3 linked regions of the Homo sapiens genome follow. Each later gene encodes a partner of the first gene's protein in a complex. Each region holds a gene or a part of one and is shown on either strand. Other genes may lie near its edges.

What was found. The genes of interacting proteins can lie anywhere in the genome.
Region 2: MYBBP1A (region 1) and DEK share a complex: the UniProt entries of both Homo sapiens proteins name them as parts of the B-WICH complex.
Region 3: MYBBP1A (region 1) and SMARCA5 share a complex: the UniProt entries of both Homo sapiens proteins name them as parts of the B-WICH complex.

What each region holds. Positions count from the first base shown.
Region 1 is NC_000017.11:4,545,352-4,553,696, forward strand, and holds part of MYBBP1A (myb-binding protein 1A), read right to left. Parts: intron 7,276-8,345; coding exon 7,100-7,275; exon of another isoform or gene 7,089-7,099; intron 6,942-7,088; coding exon 6,774-6,941; intron 6,647-6,773; coding exon 6,529-6,646; intron 5,003-6,528; coding exon 4,707-5,002; intron 4,092-4,706; coding exon 3,981-4,091; intron 3,299-3,980; coding exon 3,173-3,298; intron 2,960-3,172; coding exon 2,792-2,959; intron 2,707-2,791; coding exon 2,607-2,706; intron 592-2,606; coding exon 495-591; intron 411-494; coding exon 259-410; intron 1-258. UniProt on the Homo sapiens protein: May activate or repress transcription via interactions with sequence specific DNA-binding proteins. Repression may be mediated at least in part by histone deacetylase activity (HDAC activity).
Region 2 is NC_000006.12:18,253,859-18,261,530, reverse strand, and holds part of DEK (protein DEK), read left to right. Parts: intron 1-3,125; coding exon 3,126-3,227; intron 3,228-3,468; coding exon 3,469-3,578; intron 3,579-5,075; coding exon 5,076-5,170; intron 5,171-5,679; coding exon 5,680-5,800; intron 5,801-7,672. UniProt on the Homo sapiens protein: Involved in chromatin organization.
Region 3 is NC_000004.12:143,551,702-143,558,658, forward strand, and holds the end of SMARCA5 (SWI/SNF-related matrix-associated actin-dependent regulator of chromatin subfamily A member 5), read left to right. Parts: intron 1-1,417; coding exon 1,418-1,483; 3' UTR 1,484-5,785; downstream 5,786-6,957. UniProt on the Homo sapiens protein: ATPase that possesses intrinsic ATP-dependent nucleosome-remodeling activity.

The sequences.
Region 1 (8,345 bases):
AGGGGTGCCAGCCACTGACCCATTTGCAGCCCCCGCCCTCCTCTCCAGGCCCCACTCAGCCTTGACCAAAGACCTCCATTTCCCAGAAGAAAACGGAGCCTAGGAGAGGCGGCCAGGCCAGGCCAAGGCCTCGTTGAGACCCCTCCCACCGGCCGCAGGCTCCCGGCAGGGAGGCTGGAGGCTGAAGCGGCACCCCTGGTGCAGCTCGCTGCTCAGTGAGCCCCAGCCCACATTCCACTCCCAAAGGTCCCAACTCACATCCAGAATTAGCTGCAGGGCACGCGGGGTCAGGTGGGAGCAGATGTGGCCAAACACGCTCCGGGCCACCTGGCGCATGAGGTGGCTGGGCTGGGCCAACAGGGCCAGCAAGATCTCCACCAGCACCTCTACCCACGGGGGTTCCTGGGGGTCTGCAAGAGGGAGGGGTTGAGCCCGGATAGGGGACCGCTGGCCCCACCCCACCACTCTAGTCCCTCTCGTGACCAAGGACCCACCGATGGTCTTGGTGCGGCTCCGGCGGGGCTTCTCTCCCAGACTTTTCCTGATGCAGGTCTGGATGTCACCCAGCAGGTCACAGCTCTCTGCAGGGGACTGCGGGCAGGGTAGGACACACACTGGGGCCAGGCCCTGTCCCCAGCCCTTCTAAACCAGGCAAGGGGCTGGCCAAATGGCAGCAGTGGCATCAAGAAGCCTCCAACACCCAGCCACTGGCCCGCCCTGGCCAGTCACCCCCACAATCCAGAACAGAAGACCCCAGCTGGACACCCCAAGAGCTGAGGGCTTTTGAGATGGAGTCTCGCTCTATTGCCCAGGCTGGAGTACAGTGGTCTGATCTCGGCTCACCACAACTTCTGCCTCCCAGGTTCAAGCCATTCTCCTGCCTCAGCCTCCCAAGTAGCTGGGATTGCAGGCGTGTACCACCATGCCCGGCTAATTTTTGTATTTTGAGTAGAGACGGGGTTTCACCATGTTGGCCAGGCTGGTCTTGAACTCCTGACCTCGTGATCCACCCCCTTGCCCCCCTTGGCCTCCCAAAGTGCTGGGATTGCAGGTGTGAGCCCCCGCGCCCAGCTAGCTGACGGCTTTTTCACACCTAATACGCAGTTACAGGATCCAAAAGCCTGAAGGGGACAAGGAGTCCAACTCCCCCTTGGACACTCAAGAAAGGCAGAACCTGACAAGGATGGTCAGGGTCCCAGAGAAGCCAGCAAGCCCCAGCCCCCAATTCATAATTCTAGATTATTCCCTCCATGCTTGGCTTGGCATGAGAGACAGAATTGAAAGTCATTAGTTTTAACTAATTTAATTACATTGAACTCATCTGACTGGGGATAACCCCAGACTCGAGTGAGGTGGCGTGGTGTGCGCATGTGCGTGTGCAGGAGCTCTTGAAAACTGTGTGATCTTTGGTACCTAAAAAGCAGACTTTCCCCTCATAATGCAGTCGGCAGCTTGAACGTTTAGGCCAGGGTGGGACAAAGCAGCCCAAAGCCCTTGTCATTGCTCTCCGGCTCCCAGGCTGTGTGCCCAAGCAGGTCCCCGTCCTCCTCTGGGCTGCACCTTTTTTTTTTTTTTTCTAAGACAGAATCTTGTTCTGTTGCCCAGGCTGGAGTACAGTGGTGTCATCTCAACTCACTGCAACCTCCGCCTCCCAGGTTTAAGCAATTCTCCTGCTTCACCCTCCTGAGTAGCTGGGATTACAGGCACCTGCCACCACACCTGGCTAATTTTTGTATTTTAGTAGAGAAGGGGTTTCACTCTGTTGGCCAGGCTGGTCTTGAACTCCTGACCTCGTGATCACCTGCCTTGGTCTCCGGAAGTACTGGGATTACAGGTGCGAGCCCCGAGCCTGGCCAGGGCTGCACCTTTTATCTAAGGCTCTGACACAGCAAACTGCAGCCTCCTCTGTCCAAGTCAAGTTCGGAGATCCCAAGGCTGGGGGCAGGCTCCACATGTGTCCTGGAATCACCAGGACTCTGCTGCTATCAAAGGCCTGACGTCAAGAATTGGAAGGGGCATCGTGGCCAACCTTTCCCCAAACAGCTCATCCACATGCTGGGCTCAGAATAACCAAAGCTGGCAAGTAAGGCAACCACAGTCAAGTGGCCAGACGGGAGCAAGCAAGAGACCCACCTACTCAGGCTACAGAAGACCTAAAGCAGCCCCAATAAGAGCAGCTTATGTCATGAGAAGAAAACTCAAAAGAAATCAGGGTACTGAGCCTCGAATGTGGTCAGGGCTTCTTGATGGGAAGAACCGAGCGGGAGAGCCCGTTGCCAGAAGGTGTTCCCACAGCAGGGGGTACAGTGCAAGCTCCTTTGCCTCTGAGTCTTAGTTTCTCCATGTCAAACATGGAGAGGGGGTGTCTGCCTCAAAGCTGTGGGGATTACGAGATCCTGCATGGAAAGCCTAGGACACCAGCTGGTGCCGCTAAGTGGCCGGAGGGATGTTTCCACCTGTGACAAAGTTGGCTTCAAAAACCTCCCAACTTAACTCCCCCAGAACCTTTCCTGGAAACCCGCACAGCCCTCAAAAGCCTCTCGGTAGGGGGCCCATTGTGCCATAGAACCCCAGGCTCACAGCCCCTCCCTCCCAGGCCCCAGTACCTTGAGGAGGTGGATGCCCACGAGGAGCAGAAGGTGCTGGAAGGCAGCAGCCCTGGCCTCTGCGGAGTGGGCCTCCAGCTCCTTCAGAGTCTGCAGCATCCTGCGGGGAGACAGGCGATTCCCAGGCCCCTGCACCAGTCAGACTGCAGCGTCCTGCCCACCCCCTGGAAATCCCACGTGCTCACCGGTCCCAGGCCTGGCGCTGCTGCGCAGTGAAGGGTGTCACGGTGGTCACGTTGTGGCTGTGATTCAACAGGAGGTCTGCGAACTGCACCAGGTGGTAGGTCCAGGGCTGCCCACCCTGGGTCTGGCCCGGTGCCTGCTTGAACTGCGTGCTGAGGGTCTGCAACAGACTGGGCAAGGGATGGGGCTTGGGGTCAGCAGACCAGATGAGTCAATGTAGCCGCCTCCCTCCGCCCTCCCCAGGGCTCGGTCTCCCGCCTCTCCAGGACCTACTAGAACTCCGGGGGCCTCTGCCGTTGTTCCCAGCTTAGGGGACCTGGAGGGAGCAGGCGCCCTCAAGGCCTTCCCACCTTCGGACCTCTCCTGGGCTGCCCAAGACTCACCTGAAGAAGGCACTGCTGACAGCCTCTCGGGCCTGGTTTTCCAAAGGGAAGGAGAACGGGTGCTTTGTCTCAGGGATCTGGGATGTGGGCTTCTTTGTGACAAAGAACGAGTGGAACAAACAAAACCTGGGGAGGGTGGGAGAGTGGCCATAGCCATTCACTGCCATTGGTTTTTACAGGCTCCCCTCCTTGGATGGTACCACCGAGGGTACAAGGCCAGGAGGAGGAGGAGCCGCCCTTCTGCCCTGGGTACAGTCCTCGGGGGCCTGACGGGCAAGGCTGGAGGGGGCTGGGCTGGGCTAGGATGGGAAGGGGCCGTTTCTCTGCTCTGGATCCCCAGCTGAACGCGGGTTAACCCGAGCTAGAGAGAGTCAGTGCCCCTCTCAAGGAACCAACAGATGGGAGGCTGTGTGGTCATGGCCAAGTCAGGTCACTGCTCCTGCGAACATGGGACAGCCCCCTCTTGCAACCGTGCATGTTGAGGGTGACGTGAGCACCCAGCTCTGCACTGGCACAGACGAGGCAGGTGTGGGGCAGAAGGCTTCCCTGACACCTCCCACGTGCAAAAGCTGCCTGCAGGGCGCGCAGAGCACACCTGAACCTTTTAGGCCCCTGCAGCTGGGGTGCCTCCTGGGCCCCTTCCCTTCACGGGTTCCTGAGGAATTCCCAAGTCCCCTTGTGCCTGCCCCCCACTGATGACTCAACCCAAAGGCTTCTGGCTCCAGGGGATGCAAACTAGGACGAGTTAAGGGGCCCCATTCCTTGGCCACACGCCCATGGGAAGCTGGGAATCCAGCACAGCTCGCACCTGGCCACCTGCTCAGTCAAGGCCTCCTCCATCTCCAGGTGCAGGCTGTCCACAATGCTCACCAATCGAAAGATGATCCATTTCCTCAGCCGGAACACAGCTCGCTCAGGCCTAGCGGGGCAGGAGGCGAGGTCATGTGAGCCACTTATAACTGGCAGAAACAGGCTGGGCCCAGTGGCTCACACCTGTAATCCCAGCACTTTGGGAGGCCAAGGCTGGCCAATCACTCGAGGTCAGGAGTTCGAGACCAGCCTGACCAACACGGTGAAACCCCATCTCCATTAAAAATACAAAAATTAGCTGGGTGTGGTGGCGGGTGCCTGTAGTCCCAGCTACTGGAGAGGCTGAGGCAGAGAATCACTTGATTGCTTGAACCCGGGAGGCAGAAGTTGCAATGAGCTGAGATCACACGCCACTGCACTCCAGCTTAGGCCACAGAGAGTGAGACTCTGTCAAAAAAAAAAAAAAAAAAAAAAAAGAACCAGCAAAAACAGGACATTCCTTTGCCTGATCTCAGAGACAACACTCCAAGATCTCCCCATCCCGATCGCCAGTGTGGGGACACACAAGTAAACTGAGGCCTCATATGAGAGCTAAGGCTCTTCCCCCTCGCTCCTCTCATGGTTTAGAGCCAGGACGCTGTGGAGGGCGGGCTTGGGTCGCGGGGCTCTGCAGGCCTAGGAAGTTAACTCCTAAATTAGGTGTCCTCCCCCAAGGTCCACTCACATGTGGAGCGATGAATCCTGGGCTTTCTTCTGGTTGTTGGTGCTGAAGTCAACCAAGGAGTCCAGGTCTGGCTGGAGAAACATGGCCCGCAGCCAGGCCACATAGCCCTGCAGGGCCGGAGGGCTCAGGAACCGCACGACCCGCCAGAAAGTAGGCGTGACAGGGAGGCCTTGGTTGGTGACAGATGAGAAGGCCACTAGCACGGCCAGCTGCCGCTCAGGGTCATCCTGGCACCCCTCTAGGAAGGTGCCCACGTAATCGTCCATCTCTGGGGCAAACTTGAACTGCTTTGGGAGCTGCAAGAGTTAGGCATGGCGCTGAGCCCACCAGCCCAGGGGGGCAGGCGGTTAACAACCCAACAGCCAAGGGGGCAGGCGGGCAACAGCCCAACAGCCCAACAGCCCGGGGGCAGGCGGGCAACAGCCCACCAGGCTTGTGCCCACTACAGGTTAAATCGAGCCCCGGCAATCTCCTGTTGTACACAGCTAGGCTGTGCCTGAACTTGCAACAGTCCAGTCACCCCAGTGCTTTTGTCTGGCGTCAAGGCCTCTGTGGGTCTGACTGCCCCAGCTTCAGCACCTCCGGCCCCAGAAGGCCCCTCTTTCCGCCTTGCTGGATGGGGATGGCCTGTTTTCCTGGCTCAACGCAGGGCAGAGTGGTAGTTAGGAGGCGAGACTGACCTGGGTTCAAAGCCCACGCTGCCAATTCCTAGCCGTGTCATCTTCGGGACCAAAAACAACCACCTCTCACGCGCTTACTCAGTGCCAGCACCCGCGCTCCGCCTTTTTGGGCGGCAGCTTAGCATTTTTAGCAACTCTTTGCGGTTGGCCAATATTGTCATTGCACAGGTGAGTACAGTGAGACACAAAAACACCTAGAGGTAACTTCTCAGGGTCAGAGGCTCCCAGTGGGATAGTGTCCGGCTTCACAGCCCAAGCTGTTTTCCTTTCAATTTTTTAGACTTGTGCCCCTGGCATGTAGTGCCATGATCATGGCTCACTGCAGCCTCAAAATTCTGGGTTCAAGGGATCCTCCCACCTCAGCCTCCCGAGTAACTGGGACTACAGGTGTGCACCACCATCCAACCCAAGCTCTTAACCACTGCCTGATACTTCAAGTCTCCCCCTCACCCAGAATGACAGCTCTCTGAAACTCACTGCAAAGATAAAATGAGCTGGTGAGAACAGTCAACCCAGCAGCACTTACTGGGCACCAGGCTCACTGGTGCCCAAACATGGTCATGACGACTGTTCTCATCACTGCCACATGGGCGGGGGCGGAGAGAGGTCTGAACAGCCCGCTGGCTATCCATGCCCACAAGGGGGCCTGCTGGCAGAAGGGCCTGACTTTATCAAAACTGTCAGAGGGAAGCCAGGTACAGTGGCTCACGTCTGTAATCCCAGCACTCTGGGAGGCCAAGGCGGGTGGATCACCTAAGGTCAGGAGTTCGAGACCAGCCTGGCCAACATGGCAAAATCCCGTCTCTACCAAAAATACAAAAATTAGCTGGGCGTGGTATTGGGCGCCTGTAATCCCAGCTACTCAGGAGGCTGAGGCAGGAGAATCGCTTGAACCTGGGAGGCGGAGGTTGCAGTGAGCCAAGATCTCACCACTGCGCTCCAGCCTGGGCGACAAGAGCAAAACTTCATCTCAAAAAAAAAAAATTTGTCCGAGGGAAAGGGGTTCAGGCAGCTCACTACCCAGACGGAGGGGACACCCATAGCTCTAGCCAAGCCCCCGAGGTGCCCTGCTCCCCTTTTTGGCAGGGAGAGCTCCACGTCTAGCCTTTCTGGCAGTGTCGAGCTGCACGGGCATTACCCACCTTAGCAGTGCACACGTGCTCCCCGTAATGGCGGATCACGTCTCCCTGCATCACCAGGTGCAGCTGCTCCTTGGTCAGCAGGGGCAGGGCCGCGCCCAGCAGGCGGAAACACAGGTAGCTAAAGGGGGTGCAGGACAGAGCCTGGTCAGAGCCCTTGGTGCCCCTGGTGGGAACCTCAGGACTAGTGGCCTAGCCCACTTCACGGACAGGGAAGGGGGCCGAGAGAGGACACGCGTCGCCCGCACCTGGCTGGCCAGAACTGCATCTTCAGCAGCCCTTGTTCCACCACCTCCTTCCAGAACCGTGGGAACTTGTCTTCCTTGAGTGCCAGGCGGAGCAGGTCCAGAGCAATGGCGGGCAGCTTGCGGTCCTTCTTCACAGAGGAGGCGGCCATCTTCAGCACATTCACCAGCCTGCGGAGGGCAAGGGACTCAGGGAACACTTGCCTCACAGGCAAGGGCCAGGGTGACAAGAGCAGCCGGGACACCCCCAGGCCAAACGACAAATCTGGGCCTGGCCAGATGCAGTCCCTTGGCCCCAGGGAGGGCAAATCCGCCCACCTCCATCACACCTGGGGACATTCTCATCTGAGAATAGGTTCACGGATCCCACCAGCTTCTTGAGCTTGGAGGGCACCTTCTGCTGGGCCAGGAGGAAGAGCTCTAGCTGTTCAGGGGAGCTGAGTATTATATTCAAGTCGGCTTTGAGGACCTCCGGCAGGATCTCCTGCAATGTGGCCTTCGAGACCTAAGGATGGAGGGAGAAGAAATCGTGACTTCCTCTGCGGGGTGAGCCTGGTGGATCCTGTTCTACCTGCTCCTGACACGGGGCCACCTGGTGAGGTATCAGAGTCATCAGAGGCCAGTTGCTAACAAAACTCAAATTCCCAGGCAGCGGGGTTTTTGACAAGCATCCCACTGACGCTAACTGGCCCCTGGAGGTACCTGCCCCCCACCCCTTATTTTTTTTTTTTAAGACAGAGTCTCACTTTGCCACCCAGGCTGAGTATAGTGGTGTGATCTTGGCTCACTGCAACCTCCGCCTCCCAGGTTGAAGCAATTCTCCTGCCTCAGGTGGGATTAAAGGTGTGCGCCATCACACCCAGCTAATTTTTGTATTTTTAGTAGAGATGGGGTTTCACCATGTTGGCCAGGCTGGTCTTGAACTCCTGACCTCAAGTGATCTGCCCACCTCGGCCTCCCAAAGTTCTGGGATTACAGGCGTGAGCCACCATGCCCGGTCAAAGCTACCCTTTTAATTATTCCTTTTTTTGGTATTTCAGAGTACTAGCTCATTTCATACACGAGGAGCCCTAGGTGGAGAGCTGGGATTCGAATTCAGGTCCTTCTGGCTCTGAGGTCAAGACTGCACAGTAAGCCCTGGCCTGGAGACCTGCTACCCCTGCCTTTCTCTTCGGTGACAAAAGGGCCTAGGGTGCTACCTTCCCAAGTAGGGCAGTGGAGGCCCACAAGGGGCCAGCCTTGACCAGGATAACAATGGCAAACGTTTTATATACTTGCCACGTGCCAGGCACAGTTCCAGAGCTGCACTGCCCAATACGGTAGCCACAGCCACACAGGGCTGCTGAGCGCCTGAAAGGTGGCTAATCTGAACAGGGGTGTGCCTAAGTGTAACATACACACTGGATTTTGGAGACACCTGACAAAAAGAGTGTAAGATATCTCAACACTTTTTTATACCAATGCACACTGAAATAATATTTTAGATATACCAGATAAAGTCAAATGTCACTAAATGTTACTAAATGACACCTGTTTCTTTTTACCTTTTCAACAAAGTCACTGAAACGCTTCAAA
Region 2 (7,672 bases), on another chromosome or scaffold:
GGCCTGACCTCGGCTAACCGCAACCTCTGCCTCCTGGTTCAAGGGATTCTACTGCCTCAGCCTCTCGAGTAGCTGGGATTACAGGCATATGCCACCACAGCTGGCTGATTTTGTATTTTTAATAGAGACAAGGTTTCTCCATGTTGGTCAGGCTGGTCTCAAACTCCCGACCTCAGGTGATCCGCCCGTCTCAGCCTCCCAGAGTTTTAGGATTACAGACGTAAGCCACTGCGCCCGGCCTACAAGTCTGAATCCTAGCAGGGCAGTCTTTAAATCTTAAAGCTCCAAAATTATCTCCTTTTACTGCATGTCTGGCATCCAGAGCACGCTGGTGCAAGGGGTGAGGGGTCCCAAGGCTTTGGGCAGCTCAGGATGCAAGCTGCTTGTGGCTCTACCATGCTGGAGTTTGGAGGTGGCAGCCCCCTTCCCACAGCTCCACTAGCCAATAGAGCCTTGGTGGTGAATCTAGGGGTCCACCCCCCATTTCCCCTTTCCACTCCACACTGCCCTAGTAGAGGTTTTCTTTCTTTTTTTTTTTTTTTTTTGGAGACAAGGTCTCACTTGTCACCCAGGCTGGAGTGCAGTAACATGATCTCAGCTCACTGCAAACTCTGCCTCCCAGGCTCAAGCAATCCTCTCACCTCAGGAACCACAGGCATGCGCCACCATGCCCGGGTACTTTCTGTATTTTTTGTAGAGGCAGGGTTTTACCATGTTGCCCAGGCTGGTCTCAGACTCCTTAGCTCAAGTGACCTGCCCGTCTCTGCCTCCCAAAGGGCCTGGATTACAGGAATGAGCCACCACGCCTGGCCCTGAGTAGCAGTTTTCTGTGAGAGTTCCACCCCTGCAGGAGGCTTCTGCCCAGGCACCCAGGCTTTCTCATATATCCTCTGAAGTCTGTCCTAAGAAAGGGGTCAGATTAGCCAAAATTGGCAGTGATTTTGGGGAAAAGGGAAGTGAGAGAAATGACTAGTAAAAGATGACTCTTAGGTTTCTGTCTTTGGCAGGTGGGTGGATGGTATTAATGTTTTTTGAAAAAAATTCACAAAGTGAGCAAGTTTGGAGATGATTATGATTTTTCTTTTGAATATTTTGAGTTTAGGTGCCTGTAGGACATGAATTGTAGCTGTCCAGATGACAGACAGGCATATACTGTTGGCTCTCCATATCTGTGGGTTCCTCATCTGTGGATTCAATCAACCACAAATTGGTAAAAATGGATGGTTGCATCTGTACTGAACATGTACAGATTTTTTTATTATTCCTAAACAATACAGTATAACAACTATTTACATATCAGTTAAGTTGTATTAGTCATTATGAGTAATCTACAGATGATATAAAGTATATGGGAAGATGGTCATAGGTTACATGTAACTACTACACCATTTTTTTAAAAAATAAGGGACTTGAGCATCCATGGATTTTGGCATCTGAGGGGCGTCCTGGAACCAATCCCTCACAGATACTGAGGCAATATTAGTTAATATGAATCTCAGATGAAAGTTGTGGCTTGGAGATTGACTGGGAAGTCATTAGCTTGTAGTTAGTAATCAGAGACAAGCAAATAGTTTAAATCACTAAGTTGATGAAGTTGAGTGATAGTAGGGGTTGTTTTAGTGTGTTTGGTCTTCATTCTGTACAACATGGCCAGAATATACCTGTTGATAGCCCTTTCTCCTGAAGTATTCTTTCTGTGCGAATCCTTACATTACTAAATCTAAGCTGTCTTTAAAAGCCAGCACACGTGCTTTGTTCCTTTTTCTCTAGTCCCAAAATAATCAATTCCTCCTCAGTGCACAGCAATTTATTTGTGTATCTTTCTTAAGATGTTTTGTTATCTTTTATATTGGCGTATATTTATGTCTCATTTCTTTAGTAGCATCTTTTTCAAAAGATACGCAGTTTTTATCATCCATTTATCCCCTCTTAGTATTGAGTGCAGCTGCACAACACAGGCATTAAATAAATGGCAGAACCTCGAGCAGTATATAGTATTCTTTTATCTGACTTTATTTCATTCAAAAAATGATTTTATTTTAGATAAATGGAGCTTAATGTTTTGAATTTTGAAGTATATGCTACCTGTTTTCTAGATTTTTTTTTTTTTTTTTTTTTTTTTTTTTTTTTTTTTTTGAGACGGAGTCTTGCTGTGTCGCCCAGGCTGAGGTGCAGTGGTGCGATCTCGGCTCACTGCAAGCTCCGCCTCCTGGGTTCATGCCTTTCTCCTGCCTCAGCCTCCCAAGTAGCTGGGACTACAGGCACCAGCCACCACACCTGGCTAATTTTTTGTATTTTTTAGTAGAGATGGGGTTTCACCACGTTAGCCAGGATGGTCTTGATCTCCTGACTGAGTTAGCCAGGATGGTCTCGATCTCCTGACCGAGTTAGCCGGGATGGTCTTGATCTCCTGACCTCGTTATCCGCCCGCCTCAGCCTCCCAAAGTGCTGGGATTACAGGCATGAGCCACCGCGCCTCACCGTAGATTTTTGTGACTAAACAATTTAACTTTGAGTGACTTATGGTCATCATTAGGAATGTTATTCATAAACTACAAAGTAATGCTCTCCCAGTTGATTGCATTAAATGTAAACTTGGAGAGTTTTATCCTATCCACGTACTTCAGGCTGTTCTGCCTGGAAGTCTTTATTTGTGTTTCTTTTGTCAGTTTACTAAATTGTTATTGTTCTCTATATATCTTTTGAAGTTCTTAATCTCCCAGTCTAAATTTGATTATTCCTGAAGTACAGCAAACTGAATCTCAATTATTAAATAGAATTATGTCCAAAGATTAAACAGAGCTAGATTTTTTTCACAAACGAAGTGACTGGACTGTAATGGCAATAATTTTAGTTGGATAAAAATTAGTTTGCTTTCTAATTTTTTTTTTTAACTGAGTCCCTGTGAGTGCCAGGTGAGTAAAATGTTACTCTGAAAAAATTTTCATGGTGCTCTATTAATTAATCAAGTGTTTTCCTCTTTTATGTCATTTGCTTTCCAAAACCATGCTCAGAAGAAGAATAAAGTATTAGGTTTTGGGGACTTTGTTCTACATGTGTATCTAATAAAGTTAATACAATGTTTAAGCTTTTTGTTAATTAAGAAATACTAAATTAATTTCTAGAAAAGAGTCTCATCGTGGAAGGCAAGAGGGAAAAGAAAAAAGTAGAGAGGTTGACAATGCAAGTCTCTTCCTTACAGAGAGAGCCATTTACAATTGCACAAGGTAAGTTTATTCTAGCTTCCTTTCATTTTGTGGTGAAAGTGCCTAAATTTGTGAAAATGATGGTTTGTAGCTTAGTATCAGCAAGGTAGTGTTTTATACTTTTGGTATAATTTTATTTAATTTGCTCTGTAAGAGCAGAGTTACATGTAAATTATGCTGTGAAAATAATTCTCATTAAATTAACTTTGTAAATGTATTAGTAAGCCATAGGTATTTAATTGTGATTTTTTTTTTTCCCCAGGAAAGGGGCAGAAACTTTGTGAAATTGAGAGGATACATTTTTTTCTAAGTAAGAAGAAAACCGATGAACTTAGAAATCTACACAAACTGCTTTACAACAGGCCAGGCACTGTAAGACCTTTTTACACTTTAAACCTACTTGTATATTACTTCACAATGGAATCAATTTCTGTAAATGTTAGTGATCCACTAGTTCAATTTCCACACTTTATGACTGAGCAGACTGAGGTATATACTTATTAAATGATTTATCACAGGAAACACAGCTGGATATTAGCACTTGGATTATAATATCCAGGGCTCTGTCTTCTTTTTTCTTTTTCTTTTTCTTTTTTTTTTCTTTCTTTTAAGACACGGTCTCACTTTGTCACCCAGGCTGGAGTACAGTGTGCAATACATGGCTCACTGCAGCCTCAACCTCCTGGGCTCAAGTGTTCCTCCCGCTTAAGCCTCCCAAGTAGCTGGGACCACAGGTGCATGCCACCATACTGTGTCTGGCTAATTGTTTTACTTTTTGTAGAGGCAGGGTTTTGCCATGTGCCCAGGCTGGTCTTGAACTCCTGAGCTCAAGTGGTCCTCCCACCTTGGCCTCCCAAAGTGTTGGGATTACAGGTGTGAGCCAGTATGCCCAGCTCTAGGGCTCTTTCTCCTGTAGTAGTTTTTATTCCAAACTGAAATTTCAAATTACGAAATCCAAATTGTGATGAAAGGTTTTAGTGACCTTTAAATGTATTGAAAGAAATTCATGTTTTTGGATTTTCTCGACATTCAGAATAAGTGAATGTCGGTATGATTTGTATGAGATCATACATATGATCTCATTTGTATCTCATACAAATAAGAGGCAAAATCATTTGTATCTCATACAAATCTCATACAAAGTGAATTTGGTGTAATTGTATCTCATTTTTAGCAAATACCTGATAAATTGGATGATAGTTCTTTGCTAAAGGATTGTTATTATACTGTACATATGACTTAGTATATTATATAATCGAGGGAACTGCTTTAGGTTGTACGTGGGCAAAGTAAAGTTGGGTGTTAGAATGTCTGAAGTAGAATAGAATGTCTGGTGCATGACATAATTTATTTTCAGTGAGTCTGTTAATCTCATTTAATCCTTAAACCAATTTAATTTACACAAGTCCCATAACTAGTGAACGGTATTAGCTTTTTGTGGTACTCGCTATTCTTTACTTTGAAAGAATAAAGTCCTTCTTGATTTGGAAAAGAAGAATTACTAGTAACTTTATTACTTATGAAAAGGATATATTTTTAAATAGTAACTTTCCACATCCCCTGGTACTGTCAGGTAACTTTTGGTTGTGGTAAAAACTCCCCAGTGAAAATTTGTTCAAATTGTTCTTTTCAGAGACTTAAGTTTGTAGGATTTTTATAATGTTAATATGTTAATGACAAATACATTTTTCAGTTTTGAATAAGAAATGTTGAATATTGAACCCATATTGAATTGGTTGACTGTTCAGCCAGTATTGTAACTTACAGACAGGTATGAAAATAAAGATGTTGACTTTGAATTGGCTTTGAATTTATTCTTGTGTACATTACTGGGTAATAAATACCATTAATAATAAGGAACATTTTCAGGTGTCCTCATTAAAGAAGAATGTGGGTCAGTTCAGTGGCTTTCCATTTGAAAAAGGAAGTGTCCAATATAAAAAGAAGGAAGAAATGTTGAAAAAGTAAGTTATTTTTATAAATACTGTATTTTGATCAATATGCTTTAAGTTTATTTTTTAATGTTAAATCACATTCGGGCCAGGCACAGTGGCTCACACCTGTAATCCCAGCACTTTGGGAGGCTGAGGCGGGCGTATCACCTGAGGTCAGGAGTTTGAGACCAGCCTGACCAACATGGAGAAACCCCGTCTCCACTAAAGATACAAAATTAGCCGGCTGTGGTGGCGCATGCCTGTAATCCCAGCTACTTGGGAGGCTGAGGCAGGAGAATCGCTTGAACCTGGGAGGTGGAGGTTGCGGTGAGCCAAGATTGGGCCATTGCACTCCAGCCTGGGCAACAAGAGCGAAACTGTCTCAAAAAAAAAAAAAGAAAAAAGATTCATAGAAGCATTGGCCACTTTTTTAAATGTATGTAACTGAGCCAATTTGGTTGGCTTTCCCTTTATATTGTGGAGAACATATGTAAGCTTTCCTATATTAACACCTTGGTTTCTTCCATTTTCTGTTTCAGATTTAGAAATGCCATGTTAAAGAGCATCTGTGAGGTTCTTGATTTGGAGAGATCAGGTGTAAATAGTGAACTAGTGAAGAGGATCTTGAATTTCTTAATGCATCCAAAGCCTTCTGGCAAAGTGAGGATCAATTTTTATTTTTTTCATAAATCAGTTATTCATAGCCTCTTTATATGAAACAAAAATTGATTAATAACAGCATTGCTGTCAGTATTCGTTCATATCTACATTCAAAGACTATACCTTCTGTTGACGTATCTGCAGTAATTTCCTGATAGAAATAATATAGATGCCATAGGGGTATGTTGCTTCGGAAAATCAGATACAAGGGATATAAGGTTAAGAATAGTGAATTAATGTCAGAAGGGACAGAAAGTACTAGTAGTCAGGGTTAGGTATCTAGAAGACACTGGAAGAATAGGAAGAGGTTGGGCTGAGGATGAGGTGCAAGGCTGGAGGGAAGGGGTGCAACCTGTAATCAAGTGAAGACAAAATAGGGAGTATATTAGAACTGGATGTTTTCCTAGATCCTGGAATAAAGTATTAAAAAGTGACATTTAAAAGCTAACTCTTACAAGTTTCCTATATTGGGTTTCCAGAATCTGCAGCAGAGCCCAGGAGCCAGACAGGGAAGTAAAATGGCCTTACAGTTTTCTCACTCTTCCTAAAAGCTAGTAGGTTTGCCCTAATTATTTAATGGTAACGAATGACATAGGTGACTTAAAATGTCTGTTGAAGTGTTACATGACCTTGCCTTTTTAGTGTGATTTAGGTCTGTCAGCAAATGTTTTTATATTCTTCCCCATCTTGACAGGAAAGGAAGTGTGAGAGATCTAGCAGGCCTAGGAGTTCAGGGGAATGCCATCTCTGATGGGAGATGGCATTAATCAAAACCAGAAAATAGCTCTAGGACTTCGTTTTCGTCCGCCCTTGGTCCTTATTACCATTAGCTGCACGAGGACAGATAAACAGCAGTTAAAGTGTAAACTTTTGTTATACAACTACAAACGCAAGGGGTATGATGATTTTTGGTGTTTTAAATTGGCTTGTTTAAAGACAAAATACTTCTTATTTTCTAACTTTTACTATAGCTATACTTGTACTTTTTAAGGATTTAGTGTGAGGCAAGGTGATCACTATTTCCTCAGAAGCAATTTACTAGGTTGTTATGACAGATATTTTTATATTTATCTTTTTCTCAGTGGTTTTCCAATTTATTGGTTTCAGGATACTGTTGCCCTCTTAAAAAATTAGTGAGGACCCCAAGAGCTTTTTTTAATATGAGTTATTTTGATCTTCACTGTATTTGACATTAGAACTGAAAAATTTTTATTTTAAAATGTTAAAAATAATATTTTCTAGGAAAAATAACTTTTCAAAAGAATGAAAGAGTGGCATTTTATGTTTTTGTACATCTGTTTAATGTCTGGCTTAAGAGAAAACAGCTTGATTACCATTTGCTTCTGCATTCAGTCTTTTTGTGTTGTTGTTGTTGTTACTGTTGTTGTTACTGTTGTTTTGAGACAGATTCTCACTCTGTTGCCCAGGCTAGAGTGCAGTGGCACAATCTCTGCTCACTGCAACCACTGTCTCCCAGGTTCAAGCAATTCTTCTGCCTCAGTCTCTACAGTAGCTGGGATTATAGGCGTGTGCCACCATACCTGGCTAATTTTTGTCTTTTTAATAGAGACGGGGTTTTGCCATGTTGGCCAGGCTGGTCTCGAACTCCTGACCTCAGGTGATCTGACCGCCTCGGCCTCCCAGAGTGCTGGGATTACAGGCGTGAGCTACCGTGCCTGGCCGCATTCAGTCTTTTGCAATGTATTGTTTTGTTTAAAATCTATGAAGGGCCTGATGCAGTAGCTTATGCCTGTAATCCCTGCCCTTTGGGAGGCCGAGGCAGGTGGATCACTTGAGCTCAGGAGTTCAAGACCAGCCTGGGTGACAGAGTGAGACTGTCTCAAGAAGAAATTAGCCAGGCGCTGAGGCACG
Region 3 (6,957 bases), on another chromosome or scaffold:
ATGTAGATGTATGGACTTTACGGACTTATCTCTGGGTTCTCTGTTCTTTTCCACTGTTGCACTGATCTATGTATCTGTTTCTATACCAGCACCATGCTGTTTTGGTTACTATAGCTCGGTACTATAAGTTAAGTCAGGTAATGTGATTCTTCCAGTTTTATTCTTTTTGCTTAGGGTGGCTTTGGCTATTTCTGGGTGTTCTGTGGGTCCATATAAATTTTAGTATTTTTTTTTCTATTTCAGTGAAGAATGTCATGGGTATTTTGATAAGGATTGCATTGAATCTGTGGATTGCTTTGGGTAGTATGGACATTTTAACAATATTGAATTTGCTAATCCATGAACATGGAATATCTATTTTTTTGTGTCTTCAGTTTCTTACATCAGTGTTTTATAGTTTATCTTAGAGATCTTTCGCTTCTTTGATTAATTCCTGGGTATTTTATTTCACGTGTAATTACTGTAAATGGGATTACTTTTTATTTTTCACATTCTTCACTGTTGGCATAGAAATGCTACTGTTTGTTGTATGTTGATTTTGTATCCTGCAGTGTCACTGAATTTGTTTATGAGTTCTAATAGTTTTTTGATGGAGTCTTTAGGTTTTTCCAAATGTAAGATTATGTCATTTACAAATAGGGCAATTTGACTTCTTTGTTTCCGATTTAGATGTCCTTTCTTTCTTTCTCTCGTCTGATTGCTGTAGCTAGGACTTCCTTGAAATACTTAAAAAGTACAAATTTAGCTTGACTGGGTTGTGTGGGAAAAATCACTTCTTGATGATATGGTAGTCCTTAATATGGGGCTTCGTGAAAATCAGGAAAGTATGTCTCGTAAATGTCAAGTGTGTACACATCTCATTGAGAATACAAGTTATAATTTTAGAATAATTTAAGAAACATTGGAAAAGCAGTGGTATTATGACTTTTACTGTTAGTCTCTAAGCTTTGATTATTTCAGTGATGTTTTAGCAATGTGAAGGCAAACACTTAAAGGGAAAAAATGTTATTTAATAATAGTTAATTTAATAAAAAATGGTTAATTTATAAAGTCATGAATAAATGAGTATCTCTGGATAATATTTGGTACTTATGTAACTGCCTTTTAAAAACTCAAGTGTTTCTTACTATTTTGGGAAGCTTGCATTTATTTGATATTGATCTACTACTGTTAATTGTGCATTAGTTTTATAACGTCATTATTAACATTAACATTTTTTATTCTGTAAGTAAAATAAGTAGGTAAGATTATTTGGAGGCTTTATAGTTTGCTTTGAAAGATTTATATAGCCTGGGGGAAAAGTCTCATACCTATTACTTTGTAGTAGTTGTTATTACTAAAGTGTTATAATGTGTCTGCAACTATATTTCATGTTTATATTAGTCTTGTGAAAAGTAATCCTTCTGTCTGTTTGTAGACACAGAAACGTAAAATGGATGGCGCACCTGATGGTCGAGGAAGAAAAAAGAAGCTGAAACTATGAATATGTTTTTGTTTCATAATCACTAACTTTAAACCAGTAGTTCTTTAATTTACGGGTCTTCATAAGATGTACTGTACAATGCTCAATTGTTATGTCATTTAAAGACATCAGGTTCATCTGTTTACTGAGCTAGAAACATAGTATGTAGTTTCACTTTTTTAAATGCAACAGCTGTGCTGAAATTTTTTTATCATTAACACTTGAAGTAATAAAATAGGCTTCATTTATTACTAAGTGTTTCATTTGATTTATTTTTCTATTGTAGTTCCATTTGTGAAGATTGTGACTTTTTGTTTATTAGCTATAATTTCTACACTTGTAAGGCTTAAAAACAAGTTAAAAAGAAAATTGCAAATAACATTTGTCCCTTTCAGTCTTCACCTAGTTGTGTAATTATTTTAATTCACTTTGCCTTTGCAGAAATTTGGGTATTTTCTTTGTAGTGCTATTGAGTCTCATCTGGAAAGATTATATAAATTGCATTCTCCTTGCTTATGTGGGTAGAATGGGAAAAGAAGGCAAGACAAAGTATACTTAAATTCTATGCATATTTCTGTTATGCTTTCTGTTTTTTTTAGTTGATTCTGAAATGAATATGCCCTATTCTTTTGAAAGAATGGCCTTTTAGTTGTATAGCCAAAGACATTTAGTATTTTCCGGTTCCTTAAGGTATTACTGTACCATTTTGTAAAAGGAATATTATTATTATTATTTTTAATTATTTGGTAAATATTTTGTCATATGACCTTCTGAAGCAGCCACAACTTAGATAATGTCAGAACTAAGGTGATTTTTTTTTTTTAATTTTGAAAGCCCAGCCAAAATGAGGTGTGAATTTGTCATACTGTTACATTGAAATTGGTAACAAAATATATCCCCTCCCATTTGGACTTTTAGGGTAAATGAAAATTTTATTGTATTTTAAAGTAGTTTCTAAGTGTTAGCAAGACTGACTATAATTCCAGTTTCTGTTTTCTATGGACAGACCTGATAAACTGGAGACCCTAAAGCAGGAATACCCAAATTATAGTGTCAGGATTTTAGCTGTACCAGAGGCCTTTATGTGCTACACATAATTTGTATAAAATTTTATATGTGCAGATTGGGTACATAAACAGTTCTCCATTTTTCTAAGGGAATGCAATAAATGTAGCATCGTGAATAAATATAACTTTTATAATCCGTAAAGTGGTCTTTTCTTTCCATTTCTTTAATTGTTTTCTCAATTTTTATTCACTTTTTCCTTTAGGACACATTTCCCTTAATTGGATATCTTTCCCTTAAATTTCTATTAGTAGTTGTTTTCATCTGCCCACATGTAATTGAAGATTTAAAAAAAAAATTTTGATACCTGCAGTATTACTAATACTGCTTAATTTCTTGAAATGTGGAATTGCTGCTGTTAATGTCAAGCAAAACGCAGTATTTATGGCAAATTGTAAAGTAATTTGAATTTAGTGCTACCTCAAAATTAACTTTTTAAATACTATGTTAGATTCTTAACAGTTAAAGGTCTAATACATGCATGAGGAATGGTTACTTATGAAAGGAAAAAGAATTTGTAAGAGTTATCACCTCAGTTTGGAAGAAATTGAAAAAATGTAAGGCTGAAGAAAACTTACGGAGGTCACAAAAGTGATGTTTTCAAGAGGAGGAGAAACTGGGAGGGAGATACACAGTGGAAATGCAAAATGAATCAAGTATAGTGGTAGCCCTGAGAGCTTAGGGACTCAAATGGAAACTGTGTGAAGGGAAACTCACTTGAAAAAAAAGCATGAACCAGCTAGGCCCTGCCACCACTGTGTTTGGCCAAGTTCACAAATCTGTTTTAACCTGTCACTTCCCTGTCACTTCTCTGGCTTTCCTCTCCCGCTAAGCTTTTGTTTCCTGGCAGTAATTAAAATCTTCTGTCAGTGCCACAGCTACTACTGCTACTGGAACTGCCTTAACCACTACTGCTACTGGAACTGCCTTAGCCACCTTGGTATCGTGGTTTGGCAAAGTATTGGCCTCTACCACCATAGGGCCCAGAGCTTCTGCCTCCAAAGTTTCCTCCCTTCATGGGTCCAAAATTTGAAGACTGATTGTTGTCATTGCCAAAATCATTGTAGCTTTTACCACCTCCAAAATTGCTTCAATCATTACCAAATCTATTATAGCAATCCCCACTGCCACCATATCCATCACCACCACCATGGCTGCCACCAAAGCCACCACGATCACAGAACTTGATGACTGTATTTGTGACTAATTGTATAATAGTTTCTGTTCTGTGGAAAGTAAAGCATTCCAACACAGGGTTTCAGTGTAGATTGTTTTGTTTTGTACCCATGCTGTTGATTGCTAAATGTTTTAATAATCTGATCATGATACTGAATAAATGTCTTTTTTTTTTTTTAACAACAAAGCATGAAAGATTGCTTAATTGTACATCTGACAAAGTGCTGGAGGCTATTATAAAGTGTAATTATTACTACTTTTAAGAGACAGGGTCTTGCTCTGTCACCCAGGCTGGAGTGCAGTGGTGCAATCACAGCTCACTGCAACCTCAAACTTCAGGGCTCAAGTGATCCTCCCACCTCAGCTTCCCAAGTAGCTAGGACTACAGATACCACGCCCAGCTAAGTTTTTTTAGTTTTTGTAGAGATAGGGCCTTGCTATGTTGCCCAGTCCGGTCTCAAACGCCGACTTCAGGCAATCCTCTTGCGTCAACCTCTCAAAGTGCTGGGATTACATGTGTAAGCCTACATTCCAAAGTGCTGGGATCATAGTTGTGAGCCTACACCACACCTGGCCTACATTTTGTTTTTCATAAAGTTGAGAGAAGCAAATCCTAAGCATAGAGTACAAGTTGAGCATCCCTAATCAAAAAATCTAAAATCAGAAATGCTCCATAATTTGAATGCTCATTAGGGCATTTCTGATTTTTGGATTAGGGATGCTGAACTGATAAGTATAATGCAAGTATTCTAAAGTCTGGAAAATGCTAAAAACACTTCTGGTTCCAGGCATTTCAGATAAGGATTGCTCCATCTGCCCTTTGAGTATTTAATATATGCCGATTGTTTGAACTAATCTGGATTTAATTATATAAATGATTATATAAATGATCTTTGGCTTAGTACCTTTCTTAATCTCGATCTTAAAAAGCATTGTAAAACACCCCTGTGGTTTTTCAGAAAAATTCTGAGTAAAAAATAAATTTCATCTTGTTCTATCCCTTTGAATCTAAAAAACAAATCTTTTTGAAAGGATGTGCTACTATATTTCAAACCAGTAGTTTTGGAGTAGAACATTGCTAAAAAAATGGGTACTAAGGAGGGTAATTTAAACAAAGTAGATTAATGACACAAGGTGGATTGATGAACTCATAAATCCAAATGAATGGAATGCTAGAAGACATGTATTAACGGAGTAGCTGTTACCAAAATATATACATATTTTGTATATGTACATAGCTGTTACCAAAATGTATCTTTGCCTGTTGGAATCTGATGTCAAGATCAAAGGTGAGGGCATCCCTCAGATGACAGATAATGGGCAAAATACATTCTTGGTGTGGAGCAGTGCTGCAGAATTAACTTCGCTGTGTACATCCCAGAATCGTTTTGGATCTGTTAAGGTTTTTATTAGAATGATTAAATAGGCTTTTGCAGCATTAACTTTACAGTAGTTACCAGAAAAGACTATGCTACAAGAACCAAAATTGAAGTAAGAAGAAAAAGACTGAAATGATATGATTCTAAATGAAAAAAATGAAGAAGTGGAATAGTTTCTCCACAGGCATAAGAGGCAAAGCATTGTTTCAGAAGTGGACTGGCACCTCACCTGAGATACTCAAGACTGGCAACATGGGTCTACATTCTTTGTTACCACAGATTCCCTTGTGTCCGGAGAGATTCCCTAGCTCTAATGACAGCTTTTTTGGGGGGTAATGAGGCTATGAGAAGATTGAGGATCTAGGTACTTGCCTTTAACTCTACAGCATACAAGGTGTGTGGCTCTTATCTCTAGGACACCAATATTTAATGTTGCATATCATGTATCTCCAGTACAAGAAGAAAGTTTATCAGAATTTAGTTAATGTTGGAAACTTTGTAATATAAACAATGTAAACACTACATTGACAAAAATATTTTATTAATACAAAGAATATGCATATAGTTTGCTTACTACAGAAATTCTTGTTTTTGATGTAGACAACCCAAAGGAGTTTTTATGTATATAGATTGTGAATAAATTGGGAAAAGAAATAGAGATAAGTAGAGATTATTTCACTTCATTAAACTTTTGAAGTCCTAATTTAGTTCATGTGATTATTTGTAAACTTTTCTTTATTAGTCTTCCTCAATCATTGAAGAACCCAGGATTCAAATACAATACTTAATGGAAACACTTTTTCATCCCAAACTAAATCCTGCCCTGAAAGCCGAATTCACTATGAAATCTGAGATGAAACTCCAAGGCTATTATGCTGGCCAGTGGAAGGTTGGTTCACCCCTCTTGAGGTGACATTAGGGTGGTCTGCAGACATCACTGGAGTGGACAAAGAGATGCCTGGGTGGTTGGGGAAAGGACAGATCATAGACAACAGTAGCCTCTTTCTAGAGCTCAGTTGCAATAAATACCACAGTTACTCATCAGACACATTGGCAGTTCTACTTATTCCCATGTTTCAAAACTAGAGAATTCTAGCAAGGACTAAGCACTGCTTCTGTAGACCATCGGTATTTCTCCATGGCTGTTTGAATTTTTGTCAAAGCTTCTGTGTCTCATGCACACTAGTGACTTTTGAGACAGAGTCTTGCTCTGTCACCCAGGTTGGAGTGCAGTGGTGCGATCTAGGCTCACTGCAACCTCTGCCACCCAGGTTCAAGCAATTCTCCTGGCTCAGCCTTCCGGATAGCTGGGACTACAGGCATGCACCACACCTGGCTAATTACTGTATTTTTAGTAGAGACAGGGTTTCACCATATTGGCCAGGCTGGTCTCGAACTCCTGGCCTCAAATGATCTGCCTGCCTCCGCCTCCCAAATGTTGAGATTACAGGTGTGAGCCACTGCATCTGGCCTGATGCAGATTGATAATTTCTTGAGTGAGGCAGTGCTGTTGCCTAGTAGCAAGGCTTAGCTGGGTGAGACATTACTAGCTGCCTTCAGAAGCGGATCTCTGCCCTGAAGTTTACCAGCCTGCTTTCCTTGATGCCCATGCTGGCTGGGTGTAGGGATCCTGAGTGGAGGGAAAAAGAAGAATAGATGATACAGATTTGCTGTGCAAAGGCGGAGTTCTTACTGGCTCTTCCTCACAAACAGGCTGGTGATTAGCTGACTTTCAGATTCCCTTCTGGGAGGTGGCAAGGGGCCATCTGGTCATCCTAGCTTTGCAAGGAGTAACTTTTTTTTTTTTCATTTTATATGCCCTTTAATCCCAGTAGATGGATAGGTTTGCTTTCTTAGTATGCTTTCCAGTTGTAG